Regions from separate parts of the Homo sapiens genome. Here regions 2, 3 and 4 are each linked to region 1. Evidence: fine-mapped expression QTL. A gene starts in region 1. Each other region holds a variant in brackets. All regions are shown on one strand. Distances are from middle to middle. Region 1 holds the start of CYP27A1 (cytochrome P450 family 27 subfamily A member 1). Region 2 overlaps PLCD4 (phospholipase C delta 4). Region 3 overlaps TTLL4 (tubulin tyrosine ligase like 4). Region 4 has its middle 7.3 kb from the start of PRKAG3.

The links. PIP is the estimated chance that this variant, and not a neighbour inherited with it, causes the effect. A credible set is the group of variants that fine-mapping cannot tell apart.
Region 2: its variant is the best candidate, but not a certain one, in a credible set for the expression of CYP27A1 in whole blood (TOPMed, PIP 0.54).
Region 3: its variant is the best candidate, but not a certain one, in a credible set for the expression of CYP27A1 in whole blood (TOPMed, PIP 0.86).
Region 4: its variant is the best candidate, but not a certain one, in a credible set for the expression of CYP27A1 in whole blood (TOPMed, PIP 0.85).

The regions. Positions count from the first base shown.
Region 1 is chr2:218,780,485-218,784,646 of GRCh38, forward strand. It overlaps CYP27A1 (cytochrome P450 family 27 subfamily A member 1), which reads left to right and starts at 1,663. Exons shown (of 9, transcript NM_000784.4): 1 at 1,663-1,953. The coding sequence starts at 1,699.
Region 2 is chr2:218,632,472-218,636,633 of GRCh38, forward strand. It overlaps PLCD4 (phospholipase C delta 4), which reads left to right. Exons shown (of 16, transcript NM_032726.4): 11 at 1,134-1,290; 12 at 1,634-1,750; 13 at 1,987-2,159; 14 at 3,325-3,460; 15 at 3,772-3,921; 16 at 4,000-4,162. The coding sequence ends at 4,106. It overlaps ZNF142 (zinc finger protein 142), which reads right to left. Exons shown (of 11, transcript NM_001379659.1): 11 at 858-4,162. Among named protein-coding and RNA genes, the nearest start is that of ZNF142, 25 kb to the right of the region's middle. The variant A/C (reference allele first, on the strand shown) is at 1,777.
Region 3 is chr2:218,743,299-218,747,460 of GRCh38, forward strand. TTLL4 (tubulin tyrosine ligase like 4) reads left to right here. Exons shown (of 20, transcript NM_014640.5): 6 at 1,811-1,935; 7 at 2,393-2,503; 8 at 2,857-2,933; 9 at 3,705-3,896; 10 at 3,992-4,074. Among named protein-coding and RNA genes, the nearest start is that of TTLL4, 35 kb to the left of the region's middle. RefSeq lists enhancers at 1,517-2,716, 3,710-4,162. The variant A/C (reference allele first, on the strand shown) is at 2,097.
Region 4 is chr2:218,837,012-218,841,173 of GRCh38, forward strand. No RefSeq gene overlaps it. Among named protein-coding and RNA genes, the nearest start is that of PRKAG3, 7.3 kb to the left of the region's middle. The variant T/G (reference allele first, on the strand shown) is at 1,968.

The sequences.
Region 1 (4,162 bases):
TTTTTTTTTTTGAGATGGAGTCTCACTCTGTTGTCCAGGTTGGAGTGCATGGCACAATCTCAGCTCACTGCAATCTCCGCCTCCCGGGTTCAAGCGATTCTCCTGCCTCAGTCTCCCCAAGTAGCTGGGATCACGTGTGCCACCACGTTTTTAAAGCATGGCCTCCTGTCCTTCCTGTCCAAAAACCAAATGAAAAATATGGTCTAGGTTGGGTGCTGTGGCTCACACCTGTAATTCCAGCACTTTGGGAGGCCGAGGTAGGTAGATCATCTGAGGTCAGGAGTTTGAGACCAGCCTGGCCAACATGGCAAAACCCTATCTCTACTAAAAATACAAAAATTAGCCGGGCGTGGTGGCGGGCACCTCTAATTCCAGCTACTCTGGAGGCTGAGACCGGAGAATTGCTTGAACCGGGAGGCGGAGGTTGCAGCGAGCCAGGATTGCACCACTGCACTCCAGCCTGGACGACAGGGTGAGACTCTGGGGAGTGGGGAGGAGAGAATTAACAAACTATATGACACAAAGGAACAAAAATACACAAGACAGGATAAGAGAGAGGAAGGATACAGGGAGAGCTAACATACATATAGCAGTTTGAAGTCCCGGGAAAGGAGAAAAAAATGGGGAGGAGCAATATTTGAACAGATAATATCTGAGAAACTCCCCAGACTGATCAAAGACATCCAGTCACAGAGTCAAGAAACTAGGAGTCCTAGAATAAATAAGTAGAAAGCCACACCTAGCAACTCAGCTGTCAGCCTAATTGAACTTAATATGCCCTTTCTTCTCTGGCTGCCTGTAAATCACCAATTTTTCAAATGCTGTTAGAACCAGCTGTACCATCCTGCTGGGTCCTTCATTCCTGGCTTGAATGTGATCTTTGACCCTGTATTTATTTTATACTTGCGTGAGTTATGTTTTTAAACTTTTTGACAACTATACTTTGAATATACATGAAACATAGGATTCATAAGACAATACTTTTTTTTTCTTCTTGCTGTACGTTTTCCGTACTATGTTACTCTTTCCATTTTATTAAAAATAATTCTGGCCATCATCTACGAAATCTGGTCTCAACCTGCAGTTTGAAATATCCTGCCTTGGCAGACGCGGCAGGGAGGTGCGTGGAGGGAGAATTGAATTAAAAAAAAAAACAACAAAACACGAATATTTAGATTTCTTTGTTCAGCGGCCCCCCTCCAGGGATCAGATGACTGGCCCCCCTCGCTCCGAACTGACTCCGGGATCAATCCGGAAGGCCATTGGGAGAAGCCGAGGGCAGCTTAGCCACGGCCGGTTCCCGTTCCCTCCAGGACGCGAGGGTCGCCTTGGGTGGGGAACCGCGACCGGGCGAGGACCTATCCCGGTGTGGGGCTTCCCGATTTCGAAAGAATCTCGCTGCACCCCCGCCCAGAGTTCAGACCAAGCGAAAAGTTATTTGAGAGGCCTCGGGGGCGCGGGGTGAGGAGTCGTGGCGGAGGCCTTGGTCGGGGCGCCGTGGATATCCCCGAGTCACCGCGTCCCTCTCCTGCAGCTCCCGCGTCGCTGGGAGGAGCGAGGGAGCGAGCGGGAAGGGGTCTAGCTGGCCTTTGCTCGGCCCTCCCCAGCGCCCGGCTTTGAACCCGCCCTGCACTGCTGTCTGGGCGGGTCCGGGGACTCAGCACTCGACCCAAAGGTGCAGGCGCGCGAGCACAACCCATGGCTGCGCTGGGCTGCGCGAGGCTGAGGTGGGCGCTGCGAGGGGCCGGCCGTGGCCTCTGCCCCCACGGGGCCAGAGCCAAGGCCGCGATCCCTGCCGCCCTCCCCTCGGACAAGGCCACCGGAGCTCCCGGAGCCGGGCCTGGTGTCCGGCGGCGGCAACGGAGCTTAGAGGAGATTCCACGTCTAGGACAGCTGCGCTTCTTCTTTCAGCTGTTCGTTCAAGGCTATGCCCTGCAACTGCACCAGTTACAGGTAACCCGCGGGGGCATCGCGTCCTGGGGATGGGAGTGGGCACCGGAACAGAGAGGCTAGAGGTGAGAAGACGTTGGACAGAAAGTGAAGGCTGCAGGAACTCAGCTGGGGACCCACTGAGGCTATGGTCATAAACTGGAAATCAGTAGGGAGAATGGGCAAAGTGCAGACAGAGCCCTTTGAGCTGAGATAAACAGGACGAGGAAGGGCTTAAATCAGGACGGCACCAGTAAGGGGGGGATCTGGACGCCGGACTTACAGTGAGCAGAGGTTGAGGAGGGAGCTGTCTTGGGAAGAGAGTGGCAGAGGCAAATGTGTAAGCTAACGGATATTATGGAATCACTAATTCTGGGCTGATATTGGCTACCACAGACTTCTTCCAAACGAAATAACTTCAGGAGGATTATAGAAACCTCTTGGTTATTTGCAAGGTAAATTTCCTCTTAGGGGAAAACACAATGCTGCATCTCAGATCGTGGAAGCAAACTCACAGACAGTAAGGAAAAGGTACTTTTTGTTATTAAGAAATCAGTCTGAGGCCGGGTGCAGTGGCTCACACCTGTAATCTCAGCACCTTGGGAGGCTGAGGTGGGCAGATTACCTGAAGTCAGGAGTTTGAGACCAGCCTGGCCAACATGGTGAAACCCCATCTCTACTAAAAATACAAACATTAGCCGGGCATGGTGGCACATGCCTGTAATCCCAGCTACTAGGGAGGCTGAGGTAGGAGAATCGCTTGAACCAGGGAGGTAGAGGTTGTGGTGAGCCAAGATTACGCCATTGCACTCCAGTCTGGGCAACAAGAGCGAAACTCTGTCTCAAAAAAAAAAAAAAAAAAAGAAAAAAAGAAAAAAGAAATCAGCCTGTAGTCTGTGTTCAGGTTAGTGGTGTTGGGGGAGAAAACCAATGTCTAATAAGAAAGTTTTATACAGCAGAACACAGAAATGAGGCAGGGATGAACAGCTCACTGCTCACTGACAGAGACCGGAAAACCCAACACTGACCAATGTTGGAGAGGATTTAGGGAATGAACCAAAGGGGTTCATACAGGATCTATCTTCCTAATGACTATCAACAAATATGAATGCACCTACCATGTTCTAGGCATGGTTCCAAGTACTGGGATTCAGTGAGATGAGGCTTCTGCCCTCATGGGGCTTAAATGCTCCTCTGAAGAAGATGGAGGACAAAGAGATAAAGCAACAAAAAGTTAACTTCACAGAGAGAACTCTGGGGGAGAAGCTGTTCTAAGGTTGGGGAAGAGGGAGGGGGCTTCGATTCGGGGTGCCTCCACAAGGACACTTGGTTGTCAGGGACTGATAGGAGTAGGCTGGTCCTGGGCTGGGGTAGCCAACCATCTGCTGGTCATGTGTCTGTGCTGGGAAGGAGTCAAAAGTAAGGAGGAGCTGTGGGGACTGGGGACAGGACTGGCCTTTGAGGACAGCCTTGAAGATCAAGATAAGGGCCCTGGTTCCTCTGAGGGGCCATGGTGAGCTCTTGAGCAAGCATGGGGTGAAGACGGCCTGCATGGAACACTGTCCAGGCTGTGGTGTGTGTAGTAGGAGAGGTGCAGAGGGTCTAAGGTGATGAAGGCTCAGGCGTGGCAGGATCCAGGATGGAGAGGCAGATCTGAGCCACACTCCAGAGAAAACTGGAATGGAGGTTGAGGATGAGGGAGAAGATGACTCTGAGGGCAACGAAGGGCAAAACTGACTACAACCAGGGCTGCATCCTCTGCCCTGTCCTGGTGGCTGCTGTCTCTCCTGCAATCTTCCCTGTTGGGCTCATGTTTGTGAGACTTGGGGATGTGAAAATAAATAATTCAAAACCTAAGCTGTTGGAACTTTAAAATATTTTGAGCCTTAAGGGAATGTGATTATGTGATTATGGCACTCAAGTCACATAAGCAGGCTGCTGTAACCTTTGTTTCTCTGATTTTAGATTAACTTTCTTTACCTCTGTTGTTTTGAAAATGTTGTAAATGTCTACAGGAGGCCAAGGAAGATGCCTTCCCTCTTCACTGTTGAACTTCATTATAGATTAACTTCCTTTTACCTTTCTCACGCAAAGATTTCATGCCTATCGCATTGCTTTAAGAAGAAATGTTAACTATACTATTTTAAATTGGAAAGGAAATGAAAATGAGACACATGGAAAAGAAAACAAGTGATAACTAATTAAATTGTAACTTATAAACCAGCCTTGTGTA
Region 2 (4,162 bases), 150 kb before region 1:
TATTATATACTGCCATATGTAGGTATGTTGCAGTGGCTTTCCAACTTCTTTGGGCCACATCTTTTTTTTTAAAATGAAATCTTACGCAAAATAGATAAACGCAGAACCATCCTAGTTGAAGCACCCATTTGGCTCTCTCCTGGGTGCCCTAGTGACTCCTGAGACATTTTTGTACTTCTTGGTCTTCTTAAAGGCCAGCTTGAAAACCAGTGATGAGCGGGTGTGTGTTTGTATGTGTAACATTATTATATTGGGTAAGTAGGGGTTACTGGAATGATTGTTGTGATCTCAACCAAAGTGGGCATAGAGAAAGCTTTTTGGAAAGGATGAGTTTTAGGAAGGGCCAGCAGTAGCCAGAGGAGCAGGAAGGAGAGCATTTTGAGGTGGGGAACGTGAAGGCTCTGAGAAGGCTGTGCTAGAGTGGTCCATCTCCCTATGGGGAAGGGAGGCAGAGGGAGAAGGGATGCCATTGGTGGGGCCTCCAAGATCCTGGTTTGAAGTCTGCCTTTCTCTTGTGTACTTGCGTGGCTCACTCAGCTGACTGACTCCTAGCTTATCCTGTGCTTTCTGGGGCTGTGGTGTCTAACCTGCTGCCATGTCCAGGGATGGAAATGGGAATTCAGGAGACAAATCCAAAGATATTACTCTGGGACTCTCACATCCTTCCAGGTGTGACTTACATGACCATTTGCATACCTTGACATATCTGTCTGGATTCATGTACATTTTGACCAAAGGTTATTGTTCCTTTGTTTTAAATGAGAGGGAGGGAGGATAATGCCTCTCTGTTTAAATATAATAATAAATTTAAAACCTGTCACCCAGGATATAACATAGAGCAAACACAAGCCCAGAGGTTGACACTGATCCCAGCAGTACATGCAGACCGCCTTTATTCCCATTCCCACCCCCAGGTTGTGACGTGCCCGCTGTTTTGTCCGTCTATCTGTTGTCAGATTGTGGCCCAGGCTCCTATTTCCAAGCCTGAGTCCCTTCTCTTGTCCCGGCAGGTGAGGCAGGAGGGAGAATACAGTGGGGAGGCAGTGGGCAGAGGTTTAGGTTGGATGGCCATTATCTTCTTCTCTCTCAGACTGCTGAGGGTTCAATTCCATCTTCTTTTCCACCTTCTCCAGAAATCCAAGCCCATCTTGTGTCCAGCCCTCTCTTCCCTGGTTATCTACTTGAAGTCTGTCTCATTCCGCAGCTTCACACATTCAAAGGAGCACTACCACTTCTACGAGATATCATCTTTCTCTGAAACCAAGGCCAAGCGCCTCATCAAGGAGGCTGGTCAGGACCAAAATGGAGGGATGGGGAGGGAAGTGGGATGGATAGGTTCAGGCCTGATGGACTGGCAGGTAAGTCCCAAGAAAAAAGACAAGGTAGCTAAGGAGAGATGAAGGAGTTCAGAAACTCCTTAGAGCAGACAAGGGCAGAGGAGTTATGAATAGTGGCTCAAGGGTCTAGGGGCAGGAAAGCTGGTCTGGATGGACAGAGTAGAGAGGCACAGTGAAACTTTCTGGAGCCAGCTTCAGATGCTGGAGAGAAGGGTGAAGAGTAGGCATGGTCCTTGGGACTAGGGAAGTGGGAGATTCCACCCCACTTCCATCTCCCTCTCTATACCCTTTTACAGGCAATGAGTTTGTGCAGCACAATACTTGGCAGTTAAGCCGTGTGTATCCCAGCGGCCTGAGGACAGACTCTTCCAACTACAACCCCCAGGAACTCTGGAATGCAGGCTGCCAGATGGGTGAGGAGGCAGCAGGGACTGGGAAG[A/C]GGGAGTGGAGGAGCAGCAGGTGGGAAATAAGTTCTCTAGTGATGGTAGGGTTGGGGAATGCTCAAGAAAATTGCTAGGCTGAGAAATGCTATCAGTGGATATTACCAGCAGGTACCGTGCACCCAGTACCTATCTTCTTAACTCCCTGAAAGAGGGGCTGGAAGGCCTCCATGGTGAATCTTGCTCTTCTTTTCTCCTGGGGCCCTCAGTGGCCATGAATATGCAGACTGCAGGGCTTGAAATGGACATCTGTGATGGGCATTTCCGCCAGAATGGCGGCTGTGGCTATGTGCTGAAGCCAGACTTCCTGCGTGATATCCAGAGTTCTTTCCACCCTGAGAAGCCCATCAGCCCTTTCAAAGCCCAGACTCTCTTAATCCAGGTACAGTGGAAATAAACTGTTGGGAAGAAACTGAGATAACTGGGATAGAAGTGAGGGAAGAGGTGGCTAGGCCTGACCGGAATGTAGAGGCCGGATAGCCTATTAACAGTGTCTAGTTTTAGCTTTTGGAGCCAGCTGCCTAGCTTCAAACCACAACTTCCTAATTGGGTAATGTTGGGCAAGTTCCTTAACCTCTCCATACCTCAGTCTGCTCACCTGCAAAATAGGGGTAACACTACCACCTGCCTCACAGGGTTATAAGGAGTATAACAGTTAATATAAAGTTCTTACAATTCCTGGCACACAGGAAGTGCTATAAAAGAGGCTGGCTGGGAGCGATAGCTTACACCTGTAATCCCAGCGCTTTGGAGGCCAAGGCAGGAGGACTGCTTGAGCCCAGGAGTTTGAGACCAGTCTGAAACTGGTCTCAACAAAAAATTTAAAAATTTTGTAGAGACTCCCGTCTCTACAAAAAATTTAAAAATTAGCCTGGCATGGTGGCACATGACTATAGATAGTCCTGGCTACTCAGGAGGCTAAGGCTGGAGGGTCACTTTAGCCCAGGAGATGGAGGTTGCAGTGAGCTATGACTGCCCCACTGCATTCCAGCTTGGTCAAGAGTATGATCGTGTCTCTTTGAAAAAAAAAAAGTGGCTGCTGTCATTAGCATGCCTACTTTCAAACTGTTGAATTTCTACCTGGATCCATTTAATTTATTTGTTTATTCTGAGACAGAGTCTTGCTCTGCTGCAGGCTGGAGTGCAGTGGCATGATCTTGGCTCACTGCAACCTCCGCCTCCTGGGTTCAAGTGATTCTCCCATCTGAGCCTTCCGAGTAGCTGGGACTACAGGCGCCCGCCACCATGCCTGGCTAATTTTTGTATTTTTAGTAGAGATAGGGTTTCACCATGTTGGCCAGGCTGGTCTCCTGGTTTCAAGTGATCTGCCCACCTCGGCCTCCTGAAGTGTTGGGATTACAGGTGTGAGCCACCGTGCCCGGCCTTTGGGTGCATTTTAAATTGCAGATAGAATACTAGAAGAAAATATATTACCCATGGAGGATGTTTTACAAACCAAAAAGCTTCTTCTCCCCTGGGGTTGGGAGTAGGGTCGGGTGGGGCTGGGCTGAGCAGGAACTTGTGAGATTCCAGAGCCCTGACTACAGGTGATCAGCGGTCAGCAACTCCCCAAAGTGGACAAGACCAAAGAGGGGTCCATTGTGGATCCACTGGTGAAAGTGCAGATCTTTGGCGTTCGTCTAGACACAGCACGGCAGGAGACCAACTATGTGGAGAACAATGGTGAGAAACTGGCAGTGCTGGGGAGGTGGGGGTAGGAGCATGATTAGTTTTCCTTCTAGTCTGTCTTCCATTAAGTATAGCATCTGTTATTGCATGTCCCCACATGGGAGGCAGTGTGGAACAGTACAAAGAATCCTGGCTCTTCACTTAAAAGCTCCAGTGACCTGGGCAAATTACTTGCTTACTCTGAGCCTTTTTCCTTACCTGTAAAATGCTGATTGCCATCTAGATTAAATGAGAACACAAGAAAAGCAACCCAGTCAAGAAAACTGTCATAATGTCTTCTTATTTCTTTCTGTCCACCAACTCAGGTTTTAATCCATACTGGGGGCAGACACTATGTTTCCGGGTGCTGGTGCCTGAACTTGCCATGCTGCGTTTTGTGGTAATGGATTATGACTGGAAATCCCGAAATGACTTTATTGGTCAGTACACCCTGCCTTGGACCTGCATGCAACAAGGTGAGCCAGCCCCTTTGGCCCCTGGCCAATACCCCAGCTCTGGCTGCCTTCCTAATGCTGTCCTCCTGCCCCTTCCAGGTTACCGCCACATTCACCTGCTGTCCAAAGATGGCATCAGCCTCCGCCCAGCTTCCATCTTTGTGTATATCTGCATCCAGGAAGGCCTGGAGGGGGATGAGTCCTGAGGTGGGCATTTCACGGGAAGGGTTGGTGTGCTGGCTTTAGACGGGGAGAAACATCT
Region 3 (4,162 bases), 37 kb before region 1:
GTCACCTTTTGACATTGACGTTTTTTCATTCAGCATATTCTTTGGAGACTGACCGGGGTTGTTGCATGTATTAATAGTTCTCATTCTTTTTTATTGCTGGATAGTGTTCTGTGGTATGGATGTACCACAGTTTGTTTAACCGTACACCTGTTGAAGGATATTTGGGTTGTTTTCAGGTTTTGGCTGTTATGAATAAAGCTGCTATAAATAATCATGTACATATTTTTCTGTCAATGGAAGTCTTCATCTCTCTGGGATAAATGCCCAGGAGTGCAATTGCTAGGTTGTATGGTGGTTACATGTTTAGTTTTTTTAAGAAACTGCCAAAATTGTTTTCCAGAGTGGCTGTACCATTTTACGTTTCTATCTTTTTTGTTTTGTTTTGTTTTTGTTTTTTTGAGATGGAGTTTTGCTCTTGTTACCCAGGCCGGAGTGCAATGGCGTGATCTTGGCTCATTGCAACTTCTGCCTCCTGGGTTCAAGCAATTCTCCTGACTCAGCCTCCCGAGTAGCTGGGACTACAGGCATGCGCCACCATGCCTGGCTAATTTTGTATTTTTAGTAGAGACGGGGTTTCCCCATGTTGGTCAGGCTGGTCTCCAACTCCCAACCTCGGGTGATCCGCCTGCCTCAGCCTCCCAAAGTGCTGGGATTACAGGCATGAGCCACTGCACCCGGCCTCTATCTTTGTTTTTAAATTTTAACTCATTCTTATTGACTTTCAACAATCTTAAATTCTCATACTCAGTAAACCAAAAGCCTTTGAAGAAAAAGTTTGAAAATGAGGAATAGAGTTGAATTAATTAGAATTTTTCATTGGGAATTAGTATTTAACTTGATTCCATAAAATTCATTAAAAATCTTTAAGAGTTAAAACACTGAAGTGTTTCACATACAGTGCCTATTTCTGTTGTGCTGAAAATAATAACAGGTAAAGTGACTTTTTTAAACTAAAAATTAATGTTATAATAATATTCGTGGATTATATTATCTAAGTTGTAAAGAGTAATAGCTATTTTCTCCATTTTTCAGTGCTAGTTAAAGGAATGATCTTGGTCTCTCAGCTTGTACCTGACAGGTAGTTGATATGTTTGCTATGTTGACACCCCTTGAGACAGCCTTGGCCAAGCCCTTGTTGGATTAACAGTAGGGACCCCCATGGCCCACTGTCCCACATCAGCCACATCTCTTCATCACATCCATATCTGTGTTCCCATACTGTTACATAAAATTACAGTGTCACAAATCACTTCCAAAATGGAGAAAAGCACTAATGGTTCATGAATCTTTAGATGAACCTAAATATAAAATGAACTGGAAGTATCACTGTTTCTTTTCTTTCTATTGCTTTTTCCCCTTTTTTTATTTAAAAGTCTCTACACCTCAGATCTTGTTTGGTTTTCCTCCTTCGTAATTTTTACATCATTCTTTTCTCTCATTTATTTCTTTGTCTTAGCATAGCACGTTCTGCTACTGGTATCCACCCACATTCATTTCCCCTCTCAGAACTACTCCTGTCAGGGACTTTCCCAGCCAATGTCTTGTCACGGGAAATTTTGGAGCTGTATTGCAGAATGAAGTGTTGGAAAACCTTGTCTTTAGGTGACATTTAATGGTGTGGTTGTATGTAGGTTAGCCTAGTACCTTATGGATTAATATGTACAAAATAATTATTAATTATTGAGCACCTGGCTTTTTAGAATCACAAGTTAAAAGACAGCACTTGGAAATAAATCGTACGTCGTAGTAACGACGCTTCAGGGCTGTTGCTTTTTCCCTTTCTCTACTCCATGTTTGTTTTTCGTCTTAGAAGCTGTATGGAAATTCTGACCAAACCCCTTTCCAATCATGAGAAAGTTGTCCGACCAGCCCTCATCTACAGTCTCTTTCCCAACGTTCCCCCTACCATCTATTTTGGCACTCGGGATGAGAGAGGTAAACCTGGCCAAGTGTCAAAGCCCAGAAGAGCCCCCGGGGAGAAGGTTGCTAGCTAAGTTGGGAGGAGGTGGCAGTAGGTAGGAGAGGGTTTCCAGAATGGCTGTTGTGGCAGTTGTCACACTGTGCTCAGTTCCCCATGTGGTCGTAGGTCTGATGCA[A/C]CCTTTTTCTTGTCTGTCCTTTAGCTGACCCTTTTCAGCCTTGCCATGTCATGCTGAGTTCATGCTCTTCAACCTTGTTGCTTTTCCCTTTCAGTCTTCCCTTTCTTTGTTCCTCATTCCTGCACAGCCCCTCTTCTTTCCCAAAGTGTGCTCCTCTGAAACCCTGATCTGGAGCAATAGTTAGTGACTTGCCTGCCCAGGGAAGAATGGGCAGCCATGCCATCTTTTTTGTCTTCTCATCATGACTCTCTGCTCCTCTCCATCCCCCATCCCCACACCCCTTGCATTCTTCCCAGTGGAGAAACTTCCCTGGGAACAGAGGAAGTTGCTCCGATGGAAGATGAGCACAGTGACCCCCAACATTGTCAAGCAGACCATTGGACGGTCCCACTTCAAAATCAGCAAAAGTGAGTTGCTTGCCTTACTGTGAGCCTGTCCTTTTGCCCCAAATAGATGGGCTTTGCATAGGGGGAGAGCTCTAGACACCTCGTGCCTATGTCGGGGCAGCTGGGGCCCTCTCCTGAAATCCAACCTCATAGGAGGGTGTAGCTCTGAAATCCTGGACTGAGCCTGTTGTTCAGAATTGAGAGACAGAGGGCCATTGTTCTGTCCCTGGCCCCAGGGCCTCATGTAGGACAGCTCCATAGCAACTCTTTGAAAACCAAGTCTGGGAGCTCTGCCCAGTTCTGGGGCCTCTGGGCCTCTCTCTGTCCCTGGACTGAGCTGTTAGCAAGGCTGATTCCTGATGTACCTCCCATAGGAAACGATGACTGGCTGGGCTGCTGGGGTCACCACATGAAGTCTCCTAGTTTCCGATCCATTCGAGAGCATCAGAAGGTAGGGGTCCTTTCTGAGGAGCTGTTTCCCTGGACTTTGGACTAGGCCAAGAGGAGGGGGATGATGTGAGTAGGGGGTAGGGGGCGGGAAGAGGATGATGACCATGGAGAAGTCAGGAAGGTGTACAGAGGAGAAAGTACAGGACGGGGGTACAGTGAGAGACTCCAGTGGATCACGTACATCTCCAGTTCAGCTGCAGTATCTTGGAGTTTCTTGCCTATGTAGGGGGCAGCTGAGTCCCTCTCCTGAACTCCAACCTCATAGGAGGGTGTAACTCTGAAATCCTGCAGTTGCAGCTTCTCCAAGATGCTTTTTCCTCTAATGTGTCTTGAGTTAGATTGTCTGTTTTCTGTTTATTATGTTTCCCTATGATCACTGCACATTCCATTCTCCCAAGCTGAATATGTGTAAAGAGGACTTCTGGTCTCACATTGGAATGAATGAGTCCCTTGCCTCCAGACTTACTAAAGGCGAAATGCTTTTCTGTCCTCATCCCATAGGGTTTCATGGATAAAGATGTAATAGCTTTTTCTTTGCACTTAAGGTGAATATCACATCTGGCTTACATTACTCTGTTTTGTCTGTGTTTTAATCATCTTTTGGTGAGTGCTCTGCAGTTGGATACTTGAGGACCATTAGGGTGGTGATAGTAAGATGGAACAAAAGCTTGGAGTGCTGCTAAAGAAGTTGGAATGGTAGAATGAGTCTTGTCATCTTCCTCATGGCCTCACCTCTGCCCTCTTCCTGCACTCACCCTTTTCCCTTTTGTAGCTAAACCATTTCCCAGGCTCATTCCAGATTGGGAGGAAGGACCGGCTATGGCGGAACCTGTCACGTATGCAGAGCCGCTTTGGCAAGAAGGAGTTCAGTTTCTTCCCCCAGTCCTTTATCCTGCCCCAGGACGCCAAGCTCCTGCGCAAAGCGTGGGAGAGCAGCAGCCGCCAAAAGTGGATTGTGAAGCCAGTGAGTGAATCACAGTGGGCAGGAGACTATGGTCTGTGAGTGGGAACAACAGAGTATTGGACCTGGAGCAAATCTCATCTCCTTTCTGCTCCTAGCCAGCATCAGCTCGAGGCATTGGCATCCAGGTTATTCACAAGTGGAGTCAGCTCCCCAAGCGAAGGCCCCTCCTGGTACAGAGGTGAGCCTGTAGCACATATCCCTTACCCCATCCTCCCACCTCCTTGGCCTCGAGGTTCCCTTCTTACAATGTTCTGCCCTTTGTTCTC
Region 4 (4,162 bases), 57 kb after region 1:
CTCACTTAATCTTGGAAGATACTTAGTTTATTGCCTTAGGGAAGAAATGACACAATGCAAACAGGAGCATCTTCTGGCTTTGAGTTTCAAAAGTGAGGTCTTCTGGGAGGAAAGGGAATAATACACTTTGCTTAAATAATATTTGAGAGTTTTGGCAGGCTATGTTATTCAGAAAATATCTTCCACTAAAAACAGCTTAAAATGCTAGATAAAATATAAAGAGCATCTTCTTAAAAGCACTGAAAAGACAAGATAGCAAAGACTTACTAGGCCTAACTGAAAGGAAAATGGGCACACAGTGAAGCTCATAAGAAAAGAAGTGATTTTTGTTCAAGGGCATTTGCCAGTTCTAGCGAGAACCACATGGGGTGATAAGGGCCCAGGACCCACACAAGTTGAGAGTATGATAAGAGACCCCGTATATAGAAAGCTGGGATCTCAAAAAACCACAACCTCAGAGTGAGTGTAATCCAGAAGCAAACTTACATGGATTTATAGTCAAAGTGTTCCTCATCTGAATGTCCAGAGAGTATCAAACCTTGAACTTGGTTTAAGAACCAGTAATGATCTCAGGTGCCTGGCAGAAGCAAATATGAAAGTCTCTGAAGAAAGTTATCATCTTCCAAGGTCACAAATTATTCCAATAGTACCCAACACATTCTTGAAGATAACAGGTACACAAGGAAACTAGGAACCATGAGCAAGAACCAGCAGAAAGACAGCTAGCAGGAAAGACCCATGAAAACCTCAGAAATCGGCATTATCAGACACGTTATATGTAACAATATGTTTACTATGTTTAAATAAATAAGATAAGTTTGAAAAAGTAGGGAGCAAGTAGGAAACTATAAAAAGCAGCATGGCAGATTTGAAAAAAAGTGAATAGAACTTCTAGAAATGAAAAATACAGAAATGAAGGTAAAAACTTAATAGATGAATTTAATGACAGACTAGATAAAGCTGAAAAGAAAACTGAACATTAGGTCAGAAGAATTTACCTGGAATGTAATACAGGGAGATTAAAAAATATAAAAGACAATGAAAGAGAATAAGAGACATAGAAGTCAGAGGAGGAAAGTCTAAAATATATTTAAATAGAATCCCAGAAGGAGAGTAGAGAGAGGATGGGGCAGAGCACTATTTGAAGAGATTAGCTGAGGTTTTCTGGAACTGATGAAAAATAACAATGTCTATCTCTGAGAAGCCTATGAATCCATAGGGGGATAAATGAGAAGAAACCATACCTAGAAACATTGCAGTGAAAAATGCAGAAACCAAAGAGCGAAAAAAATTTGAAAGCAGCTGGAAAAAAAGACAGGTTACTTCCAAAGAAATGGCAGTCTAATAGCTGACTTCTCAATAGAAAATGGAAACCAGAAAATGGTAGAATATTTTCAGTGTGCTGAAAGTAACAACCAACTTGTAATTTTAATACCAAGAGGAAATTTACAAATAAGATAAAAAATTTGTTTTATGATCAAAACAAAGTTTATCACCTCAGTGAAGAAAAATTCTGAAAGAAGAAAGTGATCATCTCACATGTTGGATGTAAGAACTAAGAAAACCTAAGAAGAATTAAAGAAGAAGAAAAGTGGTAAAAATGTAGATAAATCTACATGAATACTAACTGCAAATACACACACACAGACACACACGTATTTTATTTATATATATATTTATGTATAAAATAAAAATTATGTTTTGTGGGGGGTAAATAATTAAAATATTGCCAACTATAATATATAAATTAGGGGCAGGGGAAAATGGAGTTAAAGTATTTGAAAATCCTAGTGTTATCTAGGAAGAGGAAGTGATTTTGATTAACTTTTGATTTTGATATAGTAATCATCCAGACTTCTGTGGCTTCTGTCTCCCTTTTACGCCAGCCAACAGAAACTTTCCATCTACTTCTTCAGATCGGCTACTTGAAAAAACATTCCCGCAGCTAACCTGCTGGTCCCTAGTAA[T/G]ACTCATCATTTCCTTATATCATAGTTCTCTCCTTCCCAGAGTCCCAGGGTGTGGGTGTGAGGCAGAGAGCTGGGTTACAGTGACAGTCAAGTGCAGCCTCACTTCTCACCTGGATTTACAGCCTCTAATATCCCAGCTCTGCTGCCCAGTAAAGCCTTCTCTACCAGATGTCTTTTATACACAGTGACTTTGCCTCAAGGGCCCATCCTCCTTCCTCCCGTATGTCCCCTCACTCCTCCTTTTCCTCCTCTTCCTCTTTCTCCTCCCTTCTTCTTCCTTCTTCCTCCTCCTCCTCCTCCTTCTTCTACTTTTTCTTCTTCTCCTTCTCCTCTTCCTCCTCTTTCTCCCTCTTTTTTCCCTCCTTTACCCCAGTTTGACCTTCAGGAAATTCCACTCCACCAGCTGCACATGTTTAAATGCCAATAATAGGCCAAGCTCAAGTTCTCTACCACAGAGCTTCTGGGTAGCTTGCAAACCAGAGTGGACATATGTCTTTAGCAGTCTTATTTTACCTAGAGCCCTCAGAGAACCTTTCTTTGAGAAGAGTGTTGCCTCATTCTATCAGGGAGGGTTTCAACAGAGCTCCTGTTCTGCCCAGCCAAGAAACATTGCCACACTAGGCATGTGACTTTCAGCAAATCATCTACATTCATTGAGCCTTGATTTCCACATTCCTAAAATGCGAATAATAATGTCTACCCGACAGAGTTGTTTCAAGAACTAGGAAGAACGAATATGAAAAGAGTCTGGTACAGGGGATGTGGAACGTGGAAACCCTTGTACACTGCTGATGAGCATACAAATAGGCACAATCACTTTGGAAAACTGGTGTTATCTACTAAAGCTGAACAGATGCCTATCCTATGACCCAGGAATTCTCTTCCTGGATATGCATCCAACAGAAATGCATTCATCTGTGCACCAAAAGATATATACTAGAATGTTTAGAGCAACACTATTCATGACTGGTGCAGAGAGAACATATTCCCAAACTGGAAACAGTTTAAATGTCCCAGTAGTAGAATGGACAAATACATGTTGGTATTCATCAACTCATATAGAATAGTAGGCAGTCATGAGAATGAGTGAACGACATACAAGTATATGCAATAATACAAATGAATTGCACAATGAAAGATGCCAGACACAAAATAGCATATGCTGTCTTACTGCATCAAATCCAGACAAAATTAGTTTATAATATTAGAAGTTATAATGAGGCCAGGTATGGTGGCTCATGCCTGTAATCTCAGCACTTTGGGAGGCCAAGGCAGGAGGATCATTTGAGGTCAAGAGTTCAAGACCAGCCTGGCCAACGTGGTGAAACCCTGTCTCTTCAAAAAAAAAATACAAACAATTAGCTGGGCATGGTAGCGCATGCCTGTAATCTCAGCAACTCGGGAGGCTGAGGCAGGAGAATCACTTGAAACTAGGAGATGGAGGTTGCAGTGAGCTGAGATCATGCCACTGTACTCCAGCCTGGGCGACAGAATGAAAATCTGTCTAAAAAAAAAAAAAAGTTAAGATGGGAGGAGGAAAGGATGGTGTCTGGATGGGTCACTAGGAATGAAATGTATGCTGAAGACACAATTACAACTACAGTCCTCCCTTTAGTTGCCCAAATTTGGCAAAAGACATAAACCTACAGATTCAAGAAACTGAGAGAACGCCAAACAGAATAAACCCAGTGAAACTTGTGCCAAGGCACATCATAGTAAAACTTCTGAATCTAAAGACAGAAAAAAATCTTGTTTTTTTCAACCTTTCTGTTACCTTAAGATTTCTTTTTGTCTTGTTGTTGTTAAGAAAAAAAATCTTGAAAACAATAAGACAGAAAGGACACCTTGCCTATAGGAGAAAAACAGTTCGAATGACAACAAATTTCTCCCCAGATATCATGAAAGCCAGAAGGAAGCGGCACAACACATTTTTTTTTCCTTTTTTTTTTGAGATGGATTTTGGCTCTCGTTGCCCAGGCTGGAGTGCAGTGGCACCATCTGGGCTCACTGCAACCTCCGCCTTCCGGTTTCAAGCAATTTTCCTGCCTCAGTCTCCTGAGTAGCTGGGATTATAGGCGCCTGCCACCAGGCCCAGCTAATTTTTGTACTTTTTAGTAGAGATGGGGTTTCACCATGTTGGCCAGGCTGGTCTTGAACTCCTGACCTTGTGATCTGCCCGCCTTGGCCTCCCAAAG